Linked DNA regions of Homo sapiens. The protein of the gene in region 1 purifies or fractionates together with the protein of each later gene. This does not show direct contact. Each region holds a gene or a part of one and is shown on either strand. Other genes may lie near its edges.

Region 1 (9,543 bases):
TTTCAAGCATCCATTGGAGGTCTTGGAACATATCTCCCATGGATAAGGTGGGCTACTGTATTGGTTTAAGTTCCTCAGATTTCCTGGACTACCTGACATTAGGCTCTACAATTCTTTCATACATGCTACTTCAATCAGCAGCATGCTTAGCACATAGCATGTGTTTAATAAAAGTTAAATTTAAAATAAAAATCAAGATTTCCAGTTGAACTGAAGCTAGGGAAACCTACACATATTTTGTGCGTTAGTTTGTTTGGAAACATCGTCTCTACAGAGAGTATCTGATGACATGGGAGATGACATGATAGAGTCAGTCTGGTGGAGAAGATATCTAGGCCTTCATCAGTCCCAAATCCACATTATCCATGTAGGGCTGCTTTTGTAAGATCAACGGAACCCATGTCATTGATGTAATGCTCATTACTGCCAGCATCCTTACTGTTTTTGAATATCTATGTAATAGTTGTTTTTCTTATATTATTTCACTGAATTCTTAAAATGCCTTAATGGAGATGCTCTTATTCCTATGTTAACAAGAAAGCTGAGTCTCAAAGTGGTTCTATAACTTGTTCAGTGCCACACACTAGTGAGTGAAAAAGCCATGACTAGAATGAGGGCCACAGAGAGCGGGACAAGCCTTTTTGCCGGGGAAGATAAGCTAAATGTCTCCCTAGACAGGCAGCCCTACATCCTATTGGGTCTTATTGATATCCTGACTTGCTCTAGACTTGTCTGAAACCCTGGTTTATCTGGCTTCAAAGCTTACGAAGCTTCCACCAGACCAGAGGACCATCATTTGAGTAGTGATGAAATATTCTCCAAAAAACAACAACAAATGCGACAAATTATCAGGGACCTTAGAGACTCTCAACATAAATCCCAGTTTCAGAAATTGTGTCTCAAAAAAGTAAAGTCTTAATAAATATTAGGTTGGTGCAAAAGTAGTTGTGGTTGCCATTAAAAGCAATGGCAAAACAGCAATTACTTTTCCACCAACCTATAAAAAAAAACTAATTGTGATTCATCACTACAATAGAAGGTAAAATGTATACTCACGTTACCATGGAAATAAACATCATCAGTTTAAAAATTCTCACAAAACTTGTGACTTCTCTACAGGACAACATGGTTGTGCATCCTAAGTGGAACGTAATTATTTTTGTCAGAAAATGATCTTCACATACATACCAATCATTCCTTGGGACAGGGTGGGGTTCATCGGTTTTTGGAAATGTTACTGTTTTCAAGTTATATATAAATACTCTAAATTGTGTCTGAGTGTCCAGCAAAATGACAGTATTATCTTTGATGTGCTATCAGTGAGCTACTGAGAAAGAAAATATGTTTCAACAAGATTTATTTATTAGATTAAGTGAATATATTAACATTCCATGGGTAAAATTACAGAAGACATGGTTAGGAATAAAATTTCCTCATCTCCTTGATGTCTTCGTCCCTCATATTAAGTCCTTAATTTGCAGAGTTAGCAACATTCTTAATTCCTTGTACAAGAAATTTTCTTGTGGAAAATAGTTTTACCTGTTAGTCTCCACACGTATGTCTGATCTTTGTGATACGGTATCAGGCATCCCCTGACCTGTTGGTTTGTCATCTTTTCCATTTTATCTTTTCATCTATTTTGCAAACTCATCAAGATGACTTCCACTTTCCAGCTTCTCCATTATGTACCTAAGGGTTGTCCTTAAATTTTTGTCCAACCTAAAAAATAACAATCACTAAATGATAGAACTCTATAATAACTAAACGATAGAATGATAGAAATAATTTCCAGCATTCCTGTCGGAGTGATAGAAATCTCCTAGCCTACTTTGAAGCAAATCAAAAGCAACTGTGAAGTTAATTTAATGAAATTATTTTCTCTTTTTGAGGCCCACTGTTGCAACTTTCCTTATCTCCAAGCTAGTAGAAAATGCTGTTGCTTTGTGGTCGTTTTTTTCAAAGGACTTAGGGAGGGATCATTTTCTCTAACCAGCTCATCAAATTCACAGAGGTCTACAGAAGTGAAGTGACGTGCCCAAGAGCTCATGGCAAGTAAATAGTGTCTTAGTCTAAATACTTCCAGAATGAGTATTCCTAGACCTTGTACTTATCTCATTGTCCTATGCTCAGGCAAACGTTTGCAAACAGCAGGGAAAACAACTGCAGATTGAGACTTGAGGGAGAAGGGTGGGAGATGGTCCTTAGCAGATCCCTGGGCCTGGGGATCACCTGCTCCCTGGGATCAAAATAGTGAAACAAGCTATTCATAAGTACATCAAGGACGAGTAGGCCATTGTTTTCAGAACCAGCTGTGGAGAATCTGCTCGACAGTGGCCTTGGAACAGCTGCGGCTGCTGCACCAAGAAGGGAGGGCAGGAGGGCGGAGCGGTACTGGTGGAAGGGTGAGCTAGGAGGAAAGGCTGCAAGGACCCTGCCACGCCACCTCCCGGCAAACCAGGAAGTATTTTTGCAGTAAGTGCATTGGACTGAGCCACCTTTTGAACCTACCCGAAGTGTTAACAGCGCACAGCAGGCCTTAGATGGGTGCAATAACTGCAAACTCTCAACGGGCTGGTGCCTAAGAGGCTACGGGCTGGCAGCTAAATAGAGCCCGGCGCAGTGAGTCGCGTTGTCCGAAAGTACACAGAGTGGAGCCAGCCGACTGTGCTGTCTTTGCAAACCGTGACCGAGCAAAGTCCGCGGTAAACAAGCCTCGCAGCAGCTGCCTCCGGATGAGCGCCCCCTGCTCATTCCTCCACCCAGCATTTCCCACGCGCCCAGCGCTCCGCTCTGCAGCCCCTGCCGTCCTCTCTCCCAGCCCCATTCTCAGATCGCCCCATCTTTTGGCCCAGCCCAGGTCCCAGCCCCCGCGGCTGGCGCACCACACTCACCATCTCTTGCCTGAGGAGGTGAAGCTTGGTTTCTAGCCTCTCCAGGGCGCTAGAGTGGCTACCTCGTGGGGAGCCAGAGGTTGGGGAGGACGAAGAGGAGGACGACAAGGAGGGAGGGAAGCTGCAGTAGCTGCTGCTGCTACTGCAGCCGCCGCCGCCGCCGCCACCACCACCGCTCCCCCCGCAGGGGTCCCTGTCCCTTTCCCTGGGAACCGGCTCCTCCCCACGGAGAGAGCGCACTAGACTCTCGGGTACTTTGCGCCCCAGCTTCAGCTCGATGTCTCTGAGGTCTGGCAGCGGGCTGTCTTCCATGACTTTTCCGGAACGGCGATAATAGTAATAAAACGCAGCAGATGAAAGGCAGCCACGGCTTCGAAGGCTGCTGCGAAATCAGCAGACCTCTCCGGGGGCCAGGGTCTCTATCCTCCGCCGCTCCGGTGTACCGTCCTTTCCATAACCGCCTATGCGGTATCAGCCCTGAAATCCGCACAGGACGCGGGGGGTCGCAGCTGCAGTTCCCAGTCCGCTGCGACTCCTCCGACACTAAGATGATCAAGATCTCCTCATTCTCTCTCTTTTTGGCCACCTCACTGCAAAGTTGAGTTCACTGATATTGCAGACAGAGGGGGAATAAAGAGGGGGAAGTAGTGAAAGAAAAGAGAGGGAAATTAAATCTGTTTTAGCTTTACCAAGGGAAAATTTTCACATTATAAAACCGTCCGTTCACATCCCTGCGCCGCTCACTGACTGCCCATCTGGTACTACGCGACACAAAATAATGATGCAGCCAGAAACGATGTCCTGGGTCGTTTCATTTTCCAGCCATATGCCTCCAAGCTTTCGGGATATCCTGGGTTGTCAGAAATAATCTCTGGTCAGTGAAAGAGGAGTTCGGTCGTGTGCATGGACCCATAAAAAAGAGCTAGTTAGCTTAGCAGGAGTTTAACGGCTTCCTTGATGCAGCAAAAATGTCCTTCTTCCCATTTAGGCTGTTTGATCCAAGTCATTGTGTTCCTCTGAGCCTCGGAAACTTTAAACTCCGCTGGCAGGTGGACCAAACCAGGACCAACCCTTCTACCGTATATCACAGACAAGAAGAGCAACCGGAATTTTCCCAACCCTGTCGCTAGTAGCAGAGTTTCAAAGCCCTGCTTTAGTTAGGAATACCAGTTGATTTTTCAGTTTTCCTGACTAGCTACAACCTTTAAAACAGGTTTTAAAATGAGAGATAGAGGAATGACTTTATATTTGGTGTCTTCGTTTCCCATCTCTCTACCTTCCTCAAAGGAAAAACAAACAGAAAACCTCTCTTTAGAAGACTTTCCTAATAATTTTATTCTAATAAAAAGAGTGAAACAATTTCATCAAAAGTTCAATGGAAATGTACAATCAAAATTAATTATCCTACCAACTGTTACAGTATGCAAACAAAAGTGAAAAATTAAATAGCCAGAATAACTTACATGACTGCTGAGATAGCAGTGAAATTTTAAGAACAAGCAATTGCTGAGATACTTACTTTTATTTTAATTATGGAAGAAAAAATATTGGGAATAACTATTTAAAATGTTGTCTTCTTTGATAATTTATCTATAAATTAATTTATAGATTTTTTCAACTATACAAATTGTACAATTAATTGTATAGTTGAACAATTGTACAATTTATTAATTTGTACAATTGTACAATTCATTAATCTGAAATACTTCTACCAAGTAAGTTATTATGAGCTACATGGATTACAGATCTGAATCAGCATTGAGTTTGTGTCAAAAATGTTTAAGTAGAGGATACTAATTTCAATCCAGTAAACTACAATTTTTGATTTCCATTGAAATATTTCAAAGTATGTGCCCCTCTATTTCTGTGACATATAAGTATTTGTGTTCCTGGTCACTCCGAGGCTCCATTTCCAGAGACATCATTCAGGTTTTACACTTGTAGGAACATAGGTATATACATCTCAGAGTTTGTTTTTATCATATCTGACTCTAGGAAACCTTATACGTAGAGGAAACATACGCATTCTAAATGAAATATTTCATGTCAGGGAAAAAATGCTGAACTTTCTATCAACATGCCAGAAATTTGCATGCTATTTCTCCCTTTTAAAAAGAAATGAAGAAAATAGTTATAAGTTAGATGACCCATTTCAAAGTTAGAACTACCACTTACAGAATCAAGGGAAAACAAGACCAAATCCCAGCTAACTGATAAAACTACATGCTTGGTCCTAAATTTGGAAAAACACAAGCTCGTTGCATAAGAATTGCACTGTGGCATGTAATTATGAAAGGCTTGTGTTTCAGTCAAGAACAGTTTATTATTACAAAACCCTTACAAAGTTCAGCATAAGGCTGGCTAAGTGCAGTTTATAGATGAAATATCTAGCTAGAAATTGGTCAGTAAAAAACAAATGTCAAATTATCGTGTGTCAATATAGAAAAATGGGACACCTCTTCTGCTATGAATCACAGACTGCAAAATCAGTATTTGAGGCTGAGGATAATTTAATATATACGTATATGTATGTATATATGTATATAGTTTTTTAAAGAAGTCTGCAGGAGAAACTCCTCTGAGAGTAAAAGTGTGATGTATATGCAAAGTAACTTTGTTCCAGTGAAATATAAAAAAATGTAAACTTTTGAAGGAAAGCTTAGTATGTCAAGCTTTAAATTTTTTTTCGGTTAAATGCCTATTGACATTTTAGTTTAAAATGAAGACATTTTGAATGATGCTTTAGCTAGTTTTCAGAATATATTAAAATCATTGAATGTTTATGGATCTATAATAGATTGTTGTTAATGCTACCATAACTGCTTTATGTGGTTTAATCTGAGGACATTTCTTACTCAAACTATTTGAAAACTTTTTTTTTTTACTTTGGTTCTTGAGCATGTGTTTTGTTTGTTTGTTTTCAAGATTCTCAAGAAACTGAGTCAGCCTGGGCAATATAGCGAGACCCCACCTCTTCAAAAAATTTAAAAATTAGCCAAGCATGGTGGCATGCACTTGTAGTCTTAGCTAAGGGGTTAGGGGTGAGGGAGTGAGGCCAGAAGATTGCTTGAGTCCAGGGGTTCGGGGTTGCAGTAAGCTATTATCAAGCCACTGCCCTTTAGTCTTTGAGACAGAGTGAGAAACTGCCTCAAAAAACAAAAACAAAAATAAAAACAATAAACATACAAAAATGCCCACAAACAACAAGGACAAAAATGTGTGAGATGTTTTACCAATTGCTCTTAGCCTGAGAAGCTAATTACATCTTGAGTTGGGGAATCAGTTGAGAAGACTTTGCAGTAATGAGTCCAGGATGGGGGTTGGGGGTAGCAGTGAATTCAGCAACAACTGGGAGAGGGAACATAGGGAGAACTAAGAAAGACAGAGGGAAAAATTCTTGAGTCATATCACTCTTAGTAGCACTCCCTCATTGCTCCTACTTTTCTGGTCCATCTCCAACTACCTCTGTTTCTTTGATTAGTAGCATTTGCCATGCCAACAACCACCTAAACTCGCAGTGTTTCTCCAAGTCTAATAATACATTGCAGAGTAAAATTGTAAAAATGGTTATTGTATTGTTTTTATTTGTGATGTAATTTTTTATACTTCATTATATGCTTCCTTTTAAGACCACCATATGTATGAGCTGGATTTGCCTTTTTTTTCTATTCAAAATGCATAAAGAATCTAAGAATGAATGTTAAACTATGCAGGACTTTAAGAGACTGAGTTTCTTCCCTAGCTATGTTGTGTACACGGAGAAGGAAAGGGAGCCTCTTATTTATCATTAAAAAGAAAGAAAAACTAGTGGCTAATTAAATAGGAACATTGTTGGACTCAGATGACAGGTTTTGAAAGAATGCCTCAGTCACAACAGACTGATGTGATGCACGCTTCACACATTCCACACTTAGAACATTTCCTGATTTGAGACACAATACTCACAGCAAGAGTAGACTCAACAACGCTTCATGTAGTGTGGGTAACACCACTCCTTAATCTGTTGCTGGCATTGTGGTTAAAAGAAGAAACACCTTCCACCTTCTTTCTGGCACTGATTGCAAGTTTGCAGCATTCCCAACTCTTGCTGTCACAGAGCTCAAGGGCTAGGACAGGGTCTCTTACCTGAGACTCCACTCCCCACAGTGCAGAATAATGTCAAGCAGCCAACAGCCTCAAATTATGCCTAAGAATTTTAGGAAGTCACTATTTAATAAGTATCAGGTTCTTTCATTGTTTGTTTTTAAATGTGTAGAGCTGCTGCTTCTACAAATATTTTTGTTCAGTTTATATGCATAACAAGGAAGATGTTATAGCAAAGCTAAAGAATGTTGACCCTATCCATATACAGTGGAATTATATATCTGCTAAAGTTACTAAGGTTTTATCATGCTTATTTATAGAGTCATTTAATTTACCTATAATTTTGTAGCTGGCTTGGGTCTGTTTTACTATGTGAAATCATCTACTTATTACCAACTTGAACCACTTGTACATGAAAATGCTATATATATTACTATATCTGTATATATTTCTAACAATCAATCTATCTGAAATGTCTCTCTCTAAGGTGTACAGACCCTTTAAATAGTCTCTGATTGAAATCTAATTAATATTTATAATCAGAGCTAAACACTTCCCTGAGGATTTAGCAGACAATACTAAAAGTAGGTCACCAGGATCTAAGTCTTCCTTATCCCCTCTTCACAATCCCGGTCAAATCTCTCTGCCTTCATTATTTGTAATAGCATCCTTTATTTGCTTTTTCTTGCTATCCTGAGCTCTAACTTCCTGCTGAAAGGTACAATGCAGGGCCAAGAAAAGAGATCTCTCCAGCTAACTTTTTTCTGTTCCTCTACAGCCATCCCAATTTGGCCTATAGAATGGACTTTATAGCATTTCAATGCTGTGCTGGTTTATGTTTATAACCAACTCTCTGAAAATATAAAAATAACTGATTTGTAGCTTTTAGCAACATTCATGGTGTAAATACTCTCATTATGGCTGATATCAAGCTACCAATGTGAGATGTGAGTTGGGAAAGGATGGGAATTAGTTCATCATTACATAATGTTTCCACTATACAGGTAAAACACATGTAAATAACCTTAAAAGCATCAAGAGTAGTAAGCACAGAGAGTAGTAAAATGTATTTAAGTAATTAGGAAGTGATGAGTTTTAATCATTTATTACCTTTGTTTTTGTTTTCCTATATTAAAACTTATACAATGTAATTTTTAAAAAAAAATGGCTGTGTTTAGCAACCAGCTTGCAAAATTCTCAAAAATTTAACAATTGTCTCCTGCAAACTGGGATTGGTTGGCACCAGGACACCTGTGTTTCATAAAATCATTGGAGGGCGATCATTAATTATAGTTAAGAAAGAAAATAAAAACACAAAGCCAGAAAACGTAGTGCAGTTTTAAGTCTAAGGGTTAGGCAAAGCCATAATTAGGAATATGAGTCCCAAGGTCAGAAAGCAGGAAGAATAGTGAACTTGTGAAACGTGTATGTTAGTTTCCTAGGGTTGCCATAACAAAGTACCATGCAACAGCAATTTAGTGTCTTATAGTTCTGTAGGTTAGAAGTCCAAAATCAAGATGTGGGCAGGTCCATGCTCCCTCCAAAGCCTCTAGGGAAGGATTCCTCCTTGCCTCTTCCAGCTTCTGGGAGGCCCAGCATTCCTTGGCTTGTGCTCGCATATCTCCAATCGCTGCCTCTGTCTTTACATGGCTATTTTACCTCTGTGTCTGTGTCTAAATTTCTGTCTTCTTACACGCACACCCACCATATTGAATTAATTTAGCAAATTATAACTGCAACAACCCCATTCCCCATATAAGGTTACATTCTGAGGTACCATAGGGTCAGGATTTCAGGATATCTTTTGTGGGAGACAGACTTCAAATCATAACACTATAGAGTGATGTGGGGTCTTGGAGGTGTAGTTTAGACATGAGGCTGTGAATAATATGAGATAACTGGAATCTTCTTTTTGTTTCATACTTTTCTTTTTATTTGGCAGAGGTATAAAGGTGGCCAAGGACCAGGTGCGGTGACTGACACCTGTAATCCCAGCACTTTAAGAGGCTGAGGCAGGCTGATCACAAAGTCAAGAGATCGAGACCATCCTGACCAACATGGTGAAACCCCGTCTCTACTAAAAATACAAAAATTAGCTGGGCGTGGTGGCACACACCTGTAGTCCCAGCTACTTGGGAGGCTGAGGCAGGAGAATTGCTTGAACCCGGGAGGCGGAGCTTGCAGTGAGCCAAGATCGTGCCACTGCACTCCAGCCTGGTGACAGAGCAAGACTCCATTAAAAACAACAACAACAACAAAAACAACAAAAACCAGCCAAGAACACTTAAAGTCACTGCAAAGAATAGACGCAAACTTACTTAATCACAAAAAAAGTATTAAAAACGACAGGCTACTTTACATCACTCCATACGATTACTTATAAATTAGGTAATAACCGCTGTTAGCCTTTTTTAAAAAGTGTGATTTTATGGGCTAGAAAACTAATGACAGATACATCCGTATTTTGCCATCCAGTGGCATAATCATAGACATAATTCTTACAACCCACCTTTGATATCTTTCACCAAATACATTGATGATGTTTAAAATTGTATTTGAGATGGCCCCC
Region 2 (8,591 bases), on another chromosome or scaffold:
TGGTTGGTCAGTTTTCGAATAATGATAAACATAAAAAAATTTTCCCTTTCATTTCTTGTATAATCAAGGGTCGATTAACAATGTAGATAATCTGCAAATTGCTTATATTTGATTTCGGAACACATTCTCCATTCCTATGTTGGGTTTGAGGCCTGACAAAAAGGATTTCTATATTTGTGGCTCTTTCTCCTATTGCATTGTATTGGAAAATAAACAAATCCTTGGCATTGGTATTTTTAGAGGATATATTTCCTTGATTAAGTGCATATGAAAGGTAATAGAACAGTTAGATATTCAAAGTTGTGTTTCTTAAAAGGTACACTTTTGGGGATAGTGAGTCTAGTTACAAAGGTGTTGGGATTTTTTCAGCCCACAGTGTGATTTTTATACATTTCAAAACCAGGTAGTTTGCTTGTCATTGGATCACAGACTGTGGAAACAATTTACTTCAAAAGTGTTCAGTTACTGTTTGACCTGTAGAACTAATTGGGAAGCTAGGGATTTGGAAGAACAGGTAACTGGGTCTTTGAGCATTTAACAGTACATACTATGATCAATTTTGTAAGCTGATGGTTGCATGGTTTATTTTTGAAAATAGTAATTTTTACTACCTGTTACTACCTTTTTACTCACAATGTTAATATTCTGAGTGATAATTCCACTACCCCTATTTAGTGTGAGCAAGAAGAACCACTATTTATCAAATATGTTATTTTCCCTTAATAATGCTGAGTAAACATATTTATTCATTCCTTCAACAAATACTTATCAAGTACCACCATATGTCAGGTCCATGTGGTAGGCACTAGGGGTGTAAATAGTGAACTACACAGTCCTTGTCACCAAATTAATTTTCTAGAAGAGAAGACAGGTACTATTCAAGTTATCATATGAATAAATGTACAATTACTTTTTTATTCTAGGATAGATTCTTAGAAGAAATGGAATTGTTGGATTAGAGGGCACGGACATTTACTTTTGCTAGACATTGCAAAAGTGCCCTCCAAAATGATTATACCAGTTCAGATATCCTTCAGCAGTACCCATTTCCCCACACATTGGTCAACTCTGGCTAATAGCAATCTTTATTCATTTGATGGCCTGACAAGTTTTTGAATTTTTGCCAATCTAATGGGCAGAATGTTACCTTTTAAGATTTGCATTGCTCTGGTTATTAGTGATGTTTGAAATCTTTTTACATGGCCATTGGCCATTTAGGTTTCATCATATGGGTCCTTCCTTAGTGATTTTTTTTTAAACTGATACATGAGACTTGTACATATTTATAGAAGACATGGGGTATTTTGTTACATGCTTAGAATGCATAATGATCAAGTCAGGGTATTTGGGATATCCATTACCTCCAGTATTTATCATTTCAATGAGTTGAGAACATTTCAAGTCCTCTCTTCTATCTCTTTTGAAATATATAATACATTGTTGTTAACTGTAGTCACCCTACTTTGCTATCAAAATGTTAAAACTTACTCCTTGTATCTAACTATGTTTGAACCCATTAAACAATCTCTCTTCATTTTGCCCTGCCTTAGTAAGTTTTAAGTCTAAAACTTGAACCAGTTCCCCAGGAGAGTGTTCAGAAAGGAGATTCCTGTCTACTCTAAACCACAAAGCTGACAGCAGCCTTCCCTAACGTGAAGCCTTTAGTGGTGTGGTGAATAAGGTTGCTTTTGACAAAAGTTGTGAAATGTAATGACGGAGTCTGTCATAATATGAACAATCTCTAATTTATACTTACCATTCCCTAAGCTCTATGTCTTATAAATCACACCCACTTCTGAATTACTTCAAAACATTTTATGTTCCCTCCTAGTGAATGGTATAATTAGCTATATTATGTCTTTCCAGAAAGTTATATTATGTCCCTTTAAAAAAAATTAGCCAGTGTGTGATTGCTTATGTTCAAGCAGATGTTGAGGTAATGAGGTAATTCTCCTTTTGTCTTTTTTGGGGCTTTATTTTATTGGACTGATTGACATCTTTAATGCACCGAGAAATGGCAACTTTGGATACTATTTCCGAGGCATATTTCCTAGCTACTAAAGTGGATATTTCCCTTACAAAACATCATACAATTTGCTCCCCCTCCGGAATTCAGTGGGAAAATGATAGACTTAGTTCAGCATTTGTTTAAGGTGCATGATTTTCTGTATAATTCATTCAGCCCACATGCATTGAATATTCATAGCCAGGCACTGTGCTAGGCATCAGAGAGATAGAGCTGAATAAGACCTTGCCTCTGCTGGTGAGGAGTTCCTGGTCTAGAGATAGTGCTAGGCATGTAAATTCCAGGAGGAGTGTCTGATTGGCCTAGTTTGGCCAATCTCATGTATTCAAATACTTTGGCCACGGGAGGGCAGGATACTTTAATTGGCAGCCCCTGCAAAGATTGGAGGAATAGTCCAAAACAGAATGGGGTGCACTACCATGAGGATGCTGACCGGGCAGACACAGACAACACATGTCTGCTAAACTGTTCAGTGTAGTAATGCCATGTCATTTCCAAGTTGATGAAATTTTGAAGAGAGATGGCTATTTAATAATAAGGACATACATAAGAGGAAAACAACCACCACCACCCCAATAATGGGCAATTTTTGGGCTAACAGTATTTAAAATGGATTTCCTATGGTGAGGTAATTGGTTTTAAAGCAATTTTAAACCTCTTTTCACCTTTAGAGTTAGTATCGTTTTCCCCAAGATTATTGAGATGATACTTAAGTTCACATGGAAATCTAGTCAAGCTTATTCTTAGAGCAAGTTAGTAATTAAAAGATGCATCCAGTATTCCATTGGCTTCTAGGCCAGGAAATAACTGGAGCATTATTTTGACAAAACAGTCTGAAACTATTGCCTACCACAATGACCACGTCAGTCTGGGAAAACGGAAGCATTGACAATCTTGGGTGCATATGAGATCAGCCAGTAGAAAGCTGTTTGGAATTAAATGTTGCCTTGTTTTCAAGTGCAAACTTGGTTTTACATCAGTATTTTTCAAAGTGTGGTACAAGGGCCAGCTGCATCTGAATCACCAGGTACTTATCAACAATGCATTTTCCTCTGAAAGTTAGGGAGTGGTTGCTGAAGAACAACAGTTTGGCAACCCCCCATGAGATGAACATGCAGTGTGGGCTAAGGAACTATGTCTTCTAGTCAGAATTTCACTATTTCCTTAATATTATTTATTTATTTATGTATTTATTTATTTGAGACAGAGTCTCACTCTGTCACCCAGGCTGGAGTGCAATGGCGTGGTCTCGGCTCACTGCAACCTCCGCCTCCCAGGTTCAAGCAATTCTTCCGCCTCAGCCTCCCAAGTAGCTGGGACTACAGGCATGTGCCACCACACCCGGCTAATTTTTGTATTTTTAGTAGAGATGGGGTTTCACTATGTTGGTCAGGCTGGTCTCGAACTCCTGACCTTGTGATCCACCCGCCTAGGCCTCCCAAAGTGCTGGGATTACAGGCGTGAGCCACCGCACCCAGCTGTGAACCTTTTTTAAAATAAATGCAAAAATAAACACATGCTCATAGAAAACAAGTGTGTAAAGTGAAAAGTACAATTAACTATTCTATCTGACCCATTGTTTCTCAATCTTTATTTCATTATCACTCTCCTAAGGAAACTTTTTAGGCGTTTTATGCACTGTGACTCTTTGAAGGGCCATAAGCCATTGTAATATCCAAGATCTTTTCTCTTATCTCCTTGAGGATGAAATCACTACATTGACAATGCATGCTATGACCCCATTCCCATTTCCCAAAGTTAACTACTGTTAACCTTTTGTTTTCTTTCCTTCCAGAAATTGTGTTTGTATGTGCATATGTATTTATCATGTAATATGTAATTTTTTATATTAGTACATGTAGCGTTGTCATTAAAAATTGATTAATGTTCCAATGTACAGACGTACCACAATGTATTTAATGTCCTCTGGATGGACATTTCTATCTTTCTTTCCTTGTTTTTGCTATTACAAATAATGCTTCTGGGCTGGTTGTGTTGGCTCACGCGTATAATCCCAGCACTTTGGGAGGCCAAGGTAGGAGGATACCTTGAGCCCAGGAGTTTGATACCAGCCTGGGCAATGTAGTGAGACCCCATCTCTCTAAAAAGAAAATGCTTTTGGCACTGGATTCATGTTGGAGACATCAGTGTGAACTCATGTTTAGCTTAATACAGGTATGGATGGTTACACATATATATATATGTTGGTATATACATATATTTTCTTGCTCTGTCAGCTGAGAGAGCCTAGATGCACCAGTATCAATGAGCACATCTAGAGCCCAGAACTTGGCTTCTAATGCCATTCTCGAATAAAACGAACAGGGTTCCTAGGAGAAATGGCTAATTTTAGGAAAGGGGCAGGAAATATACAAGATGAGCCTAGGGCATCTTGTAGTGTGGAAACTAAGGAAATGCACCAACTGATAAGCTGACATTGATGGAGATACTGTAGTCCCTGCTTACCCATGGAGGAAGCTATGTTTCAACACCTGCAGTAGGTGCCTGAAATCATGGATAATAACAAACCCTATATATTCCAAGTTTTTTCCTGTGCATACGTATCTGTGATAAAGTTTAATTTATAAGTTAGGCACAATAAGAGATAATAAAAACTCATAATAAAATAGAACAATTATAACAATATACTGTAATAAGAGTTATGTGAATGTGGTCTCTCTCTCTCTCTCTCAAAATATCTTGTGGTACTGTAGTCATCTATTTTCATACCATGTTGACCATGGGTAACTGAAACCCTGAAGAGTGAAACGGTAGATAAGAGGGAAACTACTGTCTGTCAGAGACACAAGAGCCGATGGAAAGAACATCCAATGTCCAAAGACGGAACTCTGAACAACAGAATATTGGATTATAATTCAAAATTTGAAGTAATATTCATGAGTTGATACTGATATAAATAAATGATTAAAGACAAATCTCCCATGCAGAGCAATTCCAAATAATTTATGTAGATGTTCCCCCTCAAAGCGGTGTATCTTAACTCCCTGATTCTTTTTTTTTGAGACAGAGTCTCGCTCTGTCCCCCAGGCTGAAGTGCCGAGGCATGAGCTCTGCTCACTGCAAGCTCCGCCTCCCAGGTTCACACCATTCTCCTGCCTCTGCCTCCCGAGTAGCTGGGACTACAGGCGCCCGCCACCATGCCTGACTAATTTTATGTATTTTTAGTAGAGACAGTGTTTCACCGTGTTAGCCAGGATGGTTTCGGTCTCCTGACCTCGTGATCCACCCGCCTCAGCCTCCCAAAGTGCTGGGTTTACAGGCGTGAGCCATCGCGCCTGGCCCTAACTCCCTGATTCTTAAGTGTGGGCAGCACATAGTGAATTCCTGCCAAAGACTACAATATGGAAAAGGGGGAACCAGTAACTTTACAGTGGAGAAACCTGACAAACACTATGTCAGCTAGATGATCAAGGCCAACATCAACAATGATGATAGCATGATAGTGTGATGTGATGAATTGGCGTTTTACCTCTGTGGTCTTCCCCTAAAAACCCATAAAGCCAGTCGACTCATGAGGAAAATATCAGCAAATCCCTATTGAGAGACGTTCTGCAGAATACCTGATCAGCACTTCTCCCAACTGTCAAGGTCATAAAAATGAGTAAAGTCTGAGAAACTGTCATAGTCAAGAGATGCCTTAAGGATTGAAGGGTAGAAAAAATAATCTGTCCCTCAAACCTTGTAAGTTCATAATTGGGACAGATACCTGTAACAAAAGACATGAACAAGCAAGTTTATTAATGCATGCAGTGCACATCGCAAGGGAGAAAAATAAGCAGTGGCTCAACATACTGTCTTCAACAAAGAACTATACATTTAGAAAAGTGTTAGGACAAAGGAAAGCAGTTCCAGGCTTCCAAAGGCAGGAGAATGTGGGAAGGTGAGTTTATGGGGAAACTCCTGGGGTAAAGTCTACTCGCAGATTTCTCTGCCACCATCTCTGAGGTGATATGGGTTGTAAAGGAGAATGGGTATCTTGTTTTTAGGTGGGAAATGGGGAGAAGATAGACCTCTTGTCTTTGTAATTCTGTGTCCTGCTTTTAGGCAGACAGAGGGAAGGCAGATAGTTTCCTTCATCCTAATTATCTTTAGCTCGAAGGTCTTTCATATTTTGGGGAGATAGGCTGGTTTCCTTCAGTTCTCCCCTTTGAAACTTTACTTTCAGAAAGTCTCACATATTATGTGCTAGGCTGGTAGCTTTGGAGAGGTATGGTTGTAGATAAGTGATTGGCAAAGGGGAAGAAAACCAGATTGGAACCAGCAGAAAAGAACAGATTTAAGTATATTGTCTCATATCTTATTGAGTCAGTCTCTTAGTCCTGAGACTAGGTTAGTTTAGGTAAACAGTCATGTTTTATTTCAAGAGGTGGTGTTATGGGTGATCTCTTTAATGTTAGGTTTCTATATGTATAAGCATACAAATACTTAATAAGAGACATTTCTATGAAAAAAAAGGAAAAGCAAGGTTAATGTTTAGAGCAGTCTATAAATTAGTTTCTGAGTCTGGAGAGCAGCCAGTTGAGAGGATTTATAAATCTTAGGCTCAAAGTGTCTTCAGCTGGAGTGGGGCAGGCAATTGCAATCTGACAGATTTTCCTTGTTTGTAGTTTAAATATCATAAAGGTTGTCGATACAAAAGCTGTTGTGGTGATTTCTCTTATGTTTGTATCAAGTTGTCCAGCTTTAGCTTGCATAGCTTCAGAAAAAGCCCAATTTTAATTTCAGTGATTCCAGGTCAAAGGGTGGGAGAAAAATTGGAAATGTTAGTTTGGAGACTCACAGCCAGGTATCAGAAAAAACTAAAAGAATTTAGGATCCATTCCAGATTGCAGGTAGTTAATAAAATCTCAAAAACAATGAACAGGGCTAGAATCTAGTAATGGGTGAACTATAGTTTCTGAACTATTATTTTTCTGAAAATATTTTTCCTCTCTCACACTAATTTCTACCAAAAAGAATCAGTAAGACCAGTTTATTTGTAAAATAAGTTTTTGTCTATTATACTTGGCCTAATTATTTACATAAATGCAGCAAAAATAGTGATTGACTATGTAAGCCCTTTTAAAATCTGCTTTGCTGGAACTCTTCATAAGGAATCTCGGATTAGGCTTACAAAAATGCCTCCTTAGGCTAAGAAGCCAAGCTTAGGACTCAACATCAGATTGTGCCTATAGTAGTCTTAGATAGATAGCTCTCTTCCCTAGATTCCTGATGTTCCTGGGCCTGTCAGGAAGGTGACATTCTTTACCCTATAAGGCAACCATTTGAACCATGTATTCAAGGTACGAGGCCAGTATTTCCAAGGTGCCTTTATTGGCCCCATTAAACTGAGGTTCCTCTAGGGACCTCAGTTCCCAAAAACTGGTCATATCAGAAAATACGACATTCTCATCAAACTTTGGCAATATAACCAGTATTTTCAATTGTATCCTATTAAAAGAAGAACGGATTCTTCCTGAACTTATGCAAATGCCTATATTATCCTAAAAATAAGAATACTCATGAATAGTTTCCAAATTTTGGAGGGATCAAGTAAGGAAGAAAAGTAAATGTTTCAATTCTATTTGCAAAAGTATACTTTACCAAATTGTCTTAAGCCATAGATAGCGCAAAAGAAGAAAATGTTTTCCTAAATCTGGAAAATAAAAGAATCAGTAGTGTTTCTAATAAAGTCCTAAAAATCACAGTCCCTCATCATGTTAGTCCCATGTAATTAATTCTTAATTTTGCTCGATGTTAGCAATTTTAGGAGTTCAGTTTCTCCTTTAGATTTCTGGAGTTCATACCTAGTCCACTGGTATTTCCTTAAAGTTATCAGAGACCTGTACAGGTCAGAGTTCTTTTTGTTCTTCCCATATACCTCCTTGAAGACCCAAAACTTTAGGATTATAATTGCTTGCAAAAAGCTTTTAGAAAGAGCATCAGAATAAAGCAGTTATGATAAATGTGAACAACAAGACTTAAAATGGCCATGGTTAAAGATCTGATGGGAGTTCATTATGATAATAATGCAGTTGACAAGGAAATTTGGTTGTTTGTGAGATATAACAATTTAACATAATCAGAATTATGACAGGTAGCATGTTAGATTTCTAGGAATATCATAGTTTTGAAACACATTAATAACATTCATACAAATAATAACTCAAAGGTTAGCATTACATGTTATTTGACAATGTTTCTTATATAATTTAGCATGCAGAATAAACCTAATGGGTTTATTTAATATGTCACTTTCAGACTTCCAGGGAGCCCTCTGGAAATCCTAAAGTTAGTTTAAGGTAAAAAAGACATCATTTACAATTTGATTTTGGGAGGTTTGTAAAAAAGATTCAAAACAATCAAAATAGGATCACAGGTCACTGTGAAATAATAGTCATTCTGATTGTGAAATAATATTTAATCAGACTGATAAAGGCTTCAAAAGCAAATAGGAAGGCATATAGTTGTAGAAAAACCTTAACTCTTTAACTCAATTTTCTAAAGTAATCAAAGACCCAATAAAGACAATGTGAAGCACAGGGAATCATCTTGATGAAACACA
Region 3 (8,591 bases), on another chromosome or scaffold:
TCACCGTTGCTTTGAAAGTGAGGTCTTTGGTGCATGTTAAAATCTGAATATTTTGTTTACCTTTTCTTTCTTTTCTTTGGAGACGAGTCTCACTGTGTTGCCTAGGCTGGAGTGCAGTGGCATGATCTTGGCTCACTACAACCTCCATCTCCTGGGTTCAAGTAATTCTCCTGCCTCAGCCTCCCGAGTAGCTGGGACTACAGGCACGCACCAGCATGCCCGGCTCATTTTTGTATTTTTAGTGGAGAAGGGGTTTCACAGTGTTGGCCAGGCTGGTCTTGTACTCCTGACCTCGGGTGATCCACCTGCCTCGGCCTCCCAAAGTGCTGGGATTACAGGCGTGAGCCACTGCACCCAGCTTGTTTACCGTTCCTTTCTGATCACTCGATCTTGAAACCCACACAGTTCCACTGTCAGGTTCAACTTGGTGCACCACCTGTGAGTGTGACTGGGAAGAGGAAGCAGAGGGAAAGTTGGTTTTGCTGGGAAGATGTGGTCCCACTGGCCTCTGGCCTGGGACCTAGAAGATTAGTCTGAGGGCGGGGGCCCTGGGGGCCATTGTGCAGCCACCTCTCTCCACCAGGCATTACTGGTGGGCTTCCCTGGAGGAAGCTCTTGTCAGCATGTGTGGAGGTCATATTTTATGAGATCTGGCCTTTCCAAATCTAAACGGGAACTGTGCTGTAACATAGACATATTTTCAAAGTTGTATTCTGGCTCTTTGGAAATTGTGATTACAAACTACATTATTCTCAGGAACTCAGTTTGCACAAAAGTATAAACTTTCAATTATAGGGAAGAATGGACTTAGAAGGTGGTGTTTTAATGAAATATCAATATATTTTACAAGTATTTAAACTCATTTATGTTAACATATACGTCATTGTAACTCTAAAGTGGTGTATTTCTAGTTAACATGTGTGCAGTTAGTATTTAATGTTGCTTGGAATTGCCTGGTTGTTTCGATTGGAAAGCACAGAATAATGTTTTTGAATAAAACTATTTATAGAGCAATATTAGGTACTCTAACTTCCAAGTGGAATTACTTCTGCTCAGGAAACACATATAGGCTGTCCATCAGTGGACTGTTCAGTTTTTGGATTCACCACTCCATGACATTTGAAACCTCTGATATGTCGATTCCTGTCACGTGGAAAAGCCAACCTTTCCCCACTTCCCAAATCTTGCCAGGTATCTAATGACAATTATGGAGAATTCTTGAAACTTAAGGAAGAAAAGTAGCTGATTCAGCCCAGATTTGGAGGCTTAATGGGGAATATGTGAGGAAATTTGGAAAGTATAGGTAGTAAACTTTTTAAGTTTTAAAGGAAGATTATGGCCTGGTGCAGTGGCTCATGCCTGTAATCCCAGCACTTTGGGAGGCCAAGGTGGAGGATTGGTTGAACTCAGGAAGACAAGACCAGCCTGAGCAACCTGACAAAACCCAGTATCTATAATAAATGTCAAAATAAAATTTTATAAAAATATAAAAATTAGCTGGGCATGGTGGCGCACACCTGTAGTCCCAGTTACTCTGGAGGCTGAGGTGGGTGGATCACTTGAGCCTGGGAGGTCAAGGCTGCAATGAGCAATGATCATGCCACTACACTCCAGCCTGGGCAACAGAGTGAGACCCTGTCTCAAAAATAAATAAAATATGATTATTTTTGGCTCATATTTTCTTATTGCCACAGTGGTCGCATGGGACAAGAGTCATTTCAACTTTTTTTTTTTTTTTTGAGACGGAGTCTCACTCTGTCGCCCAGGCTGGAGTGCAGTGGCGGGATCTCGGCTCACTGCAAGCTCTGCCTCCCGGGTTCACGTTGTTCTCCTGCCTCAGCCTCCTGAGTAGCTGGGACTACAGGCGCCCGCCATCACGCCTGGCTAATTTTTTTGTATTTTTAGTAGAGACGGGGTTTCACCGTGTTAGCCAGGATGGTCTCGATCTCCAGACCTCGTGATCTGCCCCCCTTGGCCTCCCAAAGTTCTTGGATTACAGGTGTGAGCCACCGTGCCTGGCCGAGTCATTTCAACTTTCATTGTAGGTTTTTGTCTTTAATTTTCCTATAGCTTGATTGGTTTCCTCTATGAAATCTTGAACCTTAATGCCCAGCTTTGCGTGTGTATTCTTTTCTTTTCTTTTCTTTTTTTTTTGAGACGGAGTCTCACTCTGTTGCCCAGGCTGAAGTGCAGTGGTGCGATCTTGGCTCACTGCAACCTCCGCCTCCCGGGTTCAAGCAATTCTCTGCCTCAGTCTCCCGAGTAGCTGGGATTATAGGTGCCTGCCACCACGCCTGGCTAATTTTTGTATTTTTAGTAAAGACGGGGTTTCACCATCTTGGCCAGGCTGGTCTTAAAGTCCTGACCTCGTGATCCACCCTCCTCGGCCTCTCAAAGTGCTGGGATTACAGGCGTGAGCCACCACGCCTGGCCTTGCATGTATATTTCTTTAAGCTATTTTGAAAATATCTTGATACCATTTGAAGCAGAACATATGAAACACTTTACAGTTTCCAAAAGTAAATAGCAACAAATACGGACAACCCAGTGAGATGAATTTGTTGTCTTTCATCTTTGTCATATACAAATACTGTCTTATGTGTTAAATATTTTTCCCACAGCTTATTTGTAACAGCTAATGTTGCGTTTGGATGGAGCTGATGTTTGAAATCCTAGCCTATGGGCATTGGACAGGCCACAGTGGTCCTCTGCCCTGGCTGCTGTGTGGCCGTCAGACCAGGAGGGAGGCCTCAGGCTTGATGCTGGTGTCACAGAGGCGGACCGTGGGTTTCCAGTCCCCAGTCCGGGCATCTTCTCTCGAGATGTGCTTCCTCTTCATGAATAGAATTAATCCTCCTAGTCTTCTGGGTGGTTCCTCATTTGTGGCTTTTCTCACCATGAGTGTGATAGTATCTTCTCACGGTCCTCCTCCATGGATGTGAATGCCCATAGCTGTTAGTGTGGGAATGGCCAGCCCAAGGTGTGAGTGGGATGATGCCACCGAATTTAATAAGTAAGGCTTAACTGACACGGTGCTAAACATCTCATAATAAAAAGTGCTGGGATTACAGGCGTGAGCCACTGTGCCCGGCTCAAATACATTTTTATCTTAATGATTTCTCTGGATAGAATATTTGCATAACATGGGAACACTTTTTAAAAATAACAGACTTAAGAAATAGATCTTTTGAGTAAGATCTGAATTATAGGGAAATGTTAGGATTGCATGATAAAAATTAGTTTAACCTAATTTAGATCATGTAGATTCTATGGTAGCTGTTTGATACTGACTATAATAGCATGAGATAGGACAGCTGAAACCATTAAACATTAACAACCCAGCCCTACCTTTTCTGTCTTAAAACTTCAGGCCGGGTGTGGTGGCTCACACCTGTAATCCCAGCACTTTGGGAGGCCAAGGTGAGTGGATCAGGAGTTTGAGACCAGCCTGGCCAACAAGGTGAAAACCCGTCTGTACTAAAAATACAAAAATTAGCCGGGTGTGGTGGCACGCATAGTCCCACCTACTTGGGAGGCTGAGGCAGGAGGATCTCATGAACCCAGGAGGCAGAGGTTGCGGTGAGCTGAGATTGCGCCACTGCACACCAGCCTGGGCAACAGAGCAAGACCCTGTCTCCAAAAAAAAAACAAAAAACCTCTTCCTTCCATGACAGTTGGGCTTCACAGTGAGCAGCAGTGTCTCTCTTAAATCTAGACTTCAAAGAAATAAAATTGGATTTGAAGAAATAGTTCTCACTTCAGGATACCACTGTGTGAGCTACCTGAAAAAGTTTAAAATGTGCAGTGAATTGCCCTTCAGGCAAAATACTCAAATGCATGTAAATTACAGAACTCACAACACTGCAGGGTTGACAGAGAGCTCCTCTGCTTGCCTCCGCCCTGCCTCTTGTCGCAAGCCAGGTGCCCTTAGATGTCTCCTGGTTGCGCTGACATTAGTGATACTGGATAAACAGGCAGGCACACAGGACTGTTAATTCCAAACTATATTAAATACAGTGAAACTGTCAAATGCTTTTCTCTGAAAAGAGACAAAGCTTTTTTTTTTTTTTTTTTAGCTGGAAGAGACTAAAAACAATGTTACCATGTAATCTCATCCCAAAACCCATAACATAATACCTATTAGTCCTTGACCACGTTTGTTTTTTTCTTAGATTCTTAGTGTTATGGGATGACGGTATGTTATGGTTACCTTAAATTTGTGTGAGAAGCTCACAGAAAGCCTCTCTTGCTAATGAGAATGGATGAGAGGAAACACCCTCTCCTTAAATCTAAAATCAGAAGTGTTTTGGCAATGTGAACTGCGTGTAGTAATCTCCCGCCCCCCCGCCCCAAATACACTAGCCACTAACTGGGAGATAAAGGTCAAGTTTCAGTTTGATTTTAAACAATCTGTGTTGGGGGTTAGGTTTTTGGTTAGTTTTATTGATTGGTAGGTAACAGTGGCAACAAAATTGTTTTTTGATTAAAACTGCAAAAAATCGATGTGTAATAGAGAACTTCTTTGGATTTTTGTTTTTCTTAGGAATTAGAAATTCAAACATAAATTTGAATGGAATGATATAATTTCATTCAAATTCGGTCCTTGGATTGGAGAGTCTTTGGAGAACATTTGGGACCTATTGTAAGGTGATTCCCAGTGTTAATTTAGGTGATGATTTCCCTGACCTCCAAAATTGCAGAGTCATAGGTTGGAAAACTGTTAAGAATTTTTTTTTTTCCCCCCAAGACAGGGTCTTGCTCTGTTACCCAGGCTGGAGTGTAGTGGCTCTGTCATGTCTCACTGCAGCCTTGACTTCCCAGGCTCAGGCAGTCCTCCAGCCTCAGCCTCCTGAATAGCTGGGACAATAGGCATACACCGCTACACCTGGCTAATTTTTTATTTTTTGTGGAAACGAGGTCTTGCTGTGTTGCCCAGGGTGGAATTGAACTCAGGCTCAAGTAATCCTCCTACCTTGGCCTCCCAAATGTTGGGATTATAAGTGTGAGCCACTGCGCTCCGCTATGTTAGGAATTTGGGGAGGTCATGTTAACCTGCCCTCCAGCCCACTCCCCACTCAGGTTGGGTAAACCAGGTTCTGAGCATTTTCCCTAACCGTTTCTGGGCAAACAGCCCTCTAACCAGCATTTCTGTCCTTCACAGGACTGCGGTCAGCCTCAGGCCTCCTTGCAGGTGCCTGCTTTGAAATATCTTTATTTTATTTTAGCCTTTTCTTTCTATTCTCATTGTCAGGGACCTAGGTAAAGCTCTCAGGTCCTCAGGCCTAAATGAATGCCTTTCCCACTTGAAGTTTTAAATACCTCTGCCAGATCAGTCTCAAACTCTCTTCATCACTCTGCCTTTCCAAAACTACAATGCCTTCATATTCTGTTGCCTTTAAAATAAAAAGTCTGATATCCACAATTCAGTATTAGAATTTGAAATTGACCCCAAAAGACGCATCTAATCTTAGCTTTAGAAGTTAAGGTTATGGCCGGGTGTGTTGGCTCATGCCTGTAATCCCAGCACTTTGGGAGGCCGAGACGGGTGGATCACAAGGTCAGTAGTTCAAGACCAGCCTGGCCAACATGGTGAAACCCCGTCTCTACTAAAAATACAAAAATTAGCCGGGCTGGTGGCGCACGCCTGTAATCCCAGCTACTCAGGAGGCTGAGGCAGGAGAATCACTTAAACCCGGGAGGCGGAGGTTGCAGTGAGCCGAGATTGTGCCATTGCTCTCCAGCGTGGGCAACAAGAGCAAAATTTTGTCTCAAATAAATAAAAAAAGTTAAGGTTAACAGCACTTCCCACCATGCCCCATGGGGTGATTTTCTTTTAACATCATTTAACTTTTATCAATGTAATGCATTTACTTAGTTTTGGAAACTAAGCGGTACTACTGGGTTGTAGTGCAAGACAGCAGTCCCTCTACCAGTCGCTTGCTCCGCGCTCCAACTTCCCACAGACTACCACTTTTAACTGCTCTGTTTCTACTTATCATTTTAGTTAGGATCACATTTAGCTGCCAGTAATGGAGAACAAAGTGACAGTGACTTAAATAAAATCAGGTTGATTTCTCTCACGTGAAGTTGACGTGTCAGCAGTCAGTGCTAGTTGGACAGCCTTGCTCCAAGAGGCCTCCGGGGCTGTGGCCTTTTCCCACCCTCAGGCCACCATCTGAGACGGTGGCCATCCCACCCTCCTTCAGCCAAGCAGGCCGGGGGTGGGATGTTACTATAGAAGATCCTTGGATATTGGTGGGTGCTTAGCAATGCCTGCCTTAAATTTCATATTTCTGTGTAGCATGCTGGTACTGCTAATTTCTGATTTTACCATTTTAGACATTGCTGACTTCTGCTGTAGAAGAGGCCTTAGAACTGTTCTACATTGTCCCTCCACTGCCTGAAACACATTCACCCCTTGCTCTTTTTCTGTGTTCCAAATATGTTTATATAATTTTGTTTAAATTGGTAATTCAGTGTCTGCATTCTTATTGTTAGGTAACTGTCTTCACAGCTAAGCCATGTAAGATACAGTTTACTAAGGGAAATAGTTTTGTGTTATTGGAGTGAATTTTCTTTATTTTCTTTTCTTATAATAATCCCATGGAGTAAATTTTTTTTTTTTTGGAGATGGAGGCTCATTCTGTTGCCCAGGCTGGAGTGCAGTGGCATGATCTTGGCTCACTGCAGCCTCCGCCTCCCGGGTTCAAGTGATTCTCCTGCCTCAGTCTCCCGAGTAGCTGGGATTACAGGCACCCACCATCACACCTGGCTAATTTTTTTTTTTTTTTTTGAGACGGAGTCTTGCTCTGTCGCCCAGGCTGGAGTGCAGTGGCCCGATCTCGGCTCACTGCAGGCTCCGCCTCCTGGGTTCACACCATTCTGTCTGAGCCTCTCGAGTAGCTGGGACTACAGGCGCCCGCCACCATGCCTGGCTAATTTTTTTTTTTTTTTTTTTTTTTTTTTTTGTATTTTTAGTAGAAACAGGGTTTCACCGTGTTAGCCAGGATGGTCTCCATCTCCTGACCTCGTGATCCACCTGCCTCATCCTCCCAGAGTGCTGGGATTATAGGCGTGAGCTACCGCGCCCAGCCATGCCTGGCTAATTTTTGTGTTTTTAGTACAGATGGGGTTTCACCATGTTGGCCAGGCTGATCTTGAACTCCTGACCTCAAGCAGTCCGCCCGCATTGGCCTCCTGAAGTGCTAGGATTACAGGAGTGAGCCACCGCTCCCGGCCGAATTTTCTTTAGCTTGGTTTTCAATGTACAGTCATGAATTTAGTGCCAGGCTTTTAACTAGAACTCCTCCATTAAACACCTCACATAATCTTATCACCTTCATCCCTTCCAGGCCTGCCACTTTTCTGTTTCAGCCTGGGCCGGGTGTCCTGCGGGCCTGCTACTGAGCAGTCCTCCTTGGAGTGCTTTTCATTCCTTGCAGGGATTCTTCGTGTCTCTTTCCTCTGTTGAATTCCCCTTTCTGGATTCTGTGTCTTTCATCTTTTGGTGGAGTGAATCTTCTAGTAGCTTCCTGAGAAAGAATTCATCGGAGGTGAATTTTTTGAACCAGGTCTGTCTGAAAATGCTTTTTTTTTTGGACACAGAGTCTTGCTCTGTTGCCCAGGCTGGAGTGCAGTGGTGCAATCTTGGCTCACTGCAACCTCCACCTCCCGGTTCAAGCAGTTCTCCTGCCTCAGCCTCCCGAGTAGCTGGGACTGCAGGTGCACACCACCACACCCAGCTAATTTTTTGTATTTTAGTAGAGACAGGGTTTCACCATGTTGCCCAGACTGGTCTCGAACTCCTGAGCTCAGGGAATCTGCCCGCTTCGGCCTCCCCAAGTGTCAGGATTACAGGCATGAGTCACCATGCCTGGCTGAAAATGCCCTTTCTTCCCTCACATTTGAATGGCACTTTGCCTGCGTACAGAATTCTAGGTTGGAAGTCATTGTTCCTCAGAAGTTTGAAAGCATGGAGGCATTGCTGTCTACACTGAGAGTGTTGGTAATGAGAAGTCGGAGACCACGATGGTTTCCAAGTCTCTGTGTGGGACTTTTCTTTTGTAAAATCTCTGGAAGCTTTCAGGGAACTCTTGTTTATCTCTAATGTTCTTTGGTGGGTCTTTTTGATTGGGACGCTTGGGTCCTTCAGCTCTGGGGAACTTTTGTTGATAATACTGTAGTTTTAATGTTTGTTCTAATTTTTTTTTTTTTTTTTTTTGAGAGTATTACTCTGTTGCCCTGGCTGGAGTGCAGTGGCGTGATCTGAGCTCACAGGAACCTCCGCCTCCCAGGTTCAAGTGATTCTCCTGCCTCAGCCTCCCAAGTAGCTGGGATTACAGGCGTCCACCACCAAGCCCAGCTAATTTTTGTATTTTCAGTAGAGATGGGATTTCACCATGTTGGCCAAGCTGTTCTCGAACTCCTTACCTCGTGATCCACCCGCCTTGGCCTCCCAGAGTGCTTGGGATTATAGGCATGAGCTGCCGCGCCCAGCCAAGAACACTTAAAAATGAAAGATACAGTGTCAGAAACAAAAATTCAATGTAAGGCTGGGCGCGGCGGCTCCTGCCTGTAATCCCAGCACTTTG

The links.
Region 2: the proteins of LURAP1L (region 1) and SHTN1 purify together in Homo sapiens (affinity purification with mass spectrometry; 3 studies listed by BioGRID and IntAct, with this or other methods). This does not show direct contact.
Region 3: the proteins of LURAP1L (region 1) and CDC42BPB purify together in Homo sapiens (affinity purification with mass spectrometry; 3 studies listed by BioGRID and IntAct, with this or other methods). This does not show direct contact.

The regions. Positions count from the first base shown.
Region 1 is NC_000009.12:12,769,376-12,778,918, reverse strand, and holds the start of LURAP1L (leucine rich adaptor protein 1-like), read right to left. Parts: upstream 3,900-9,543; 5' UTR 3,204-3,899; coding exon 2,892-3,203; intron 1,720-2,891; coding exon of another isoform or gene 1,690-1,719; exon of another isoform or gene 1,341-1,689; intron 1-1,340.
Region 2 is NC_000010.11:116,994,548-117,003,138, reverse strand, and holds part of SHTN1 (shootin-1), read left to right. Parts: intron 1-8,591. UniProt on the Homo sapiens protein: Involved in the generation of internal asymmetric signals required for neuronal polarization and neurite outgrowth.
Region 3 is NC_000014.9:103,046,910-103,055,500, reverse strand, and holds part of CDC42BPB (serine/threonine-protein kinase MRCK beta), read left to right. Parts: intron 1-8,591. UniProt on the Homo sapiens protein: Serine/threonine-protein kinase which is an important downstream effector of CDC42 and plays a role in the regulation of cytoskeleton reorganization and cell migration. Regulates actin cytoskeletal reorganization via phosphorylation of PPP1R12C and MYL9/MLC2.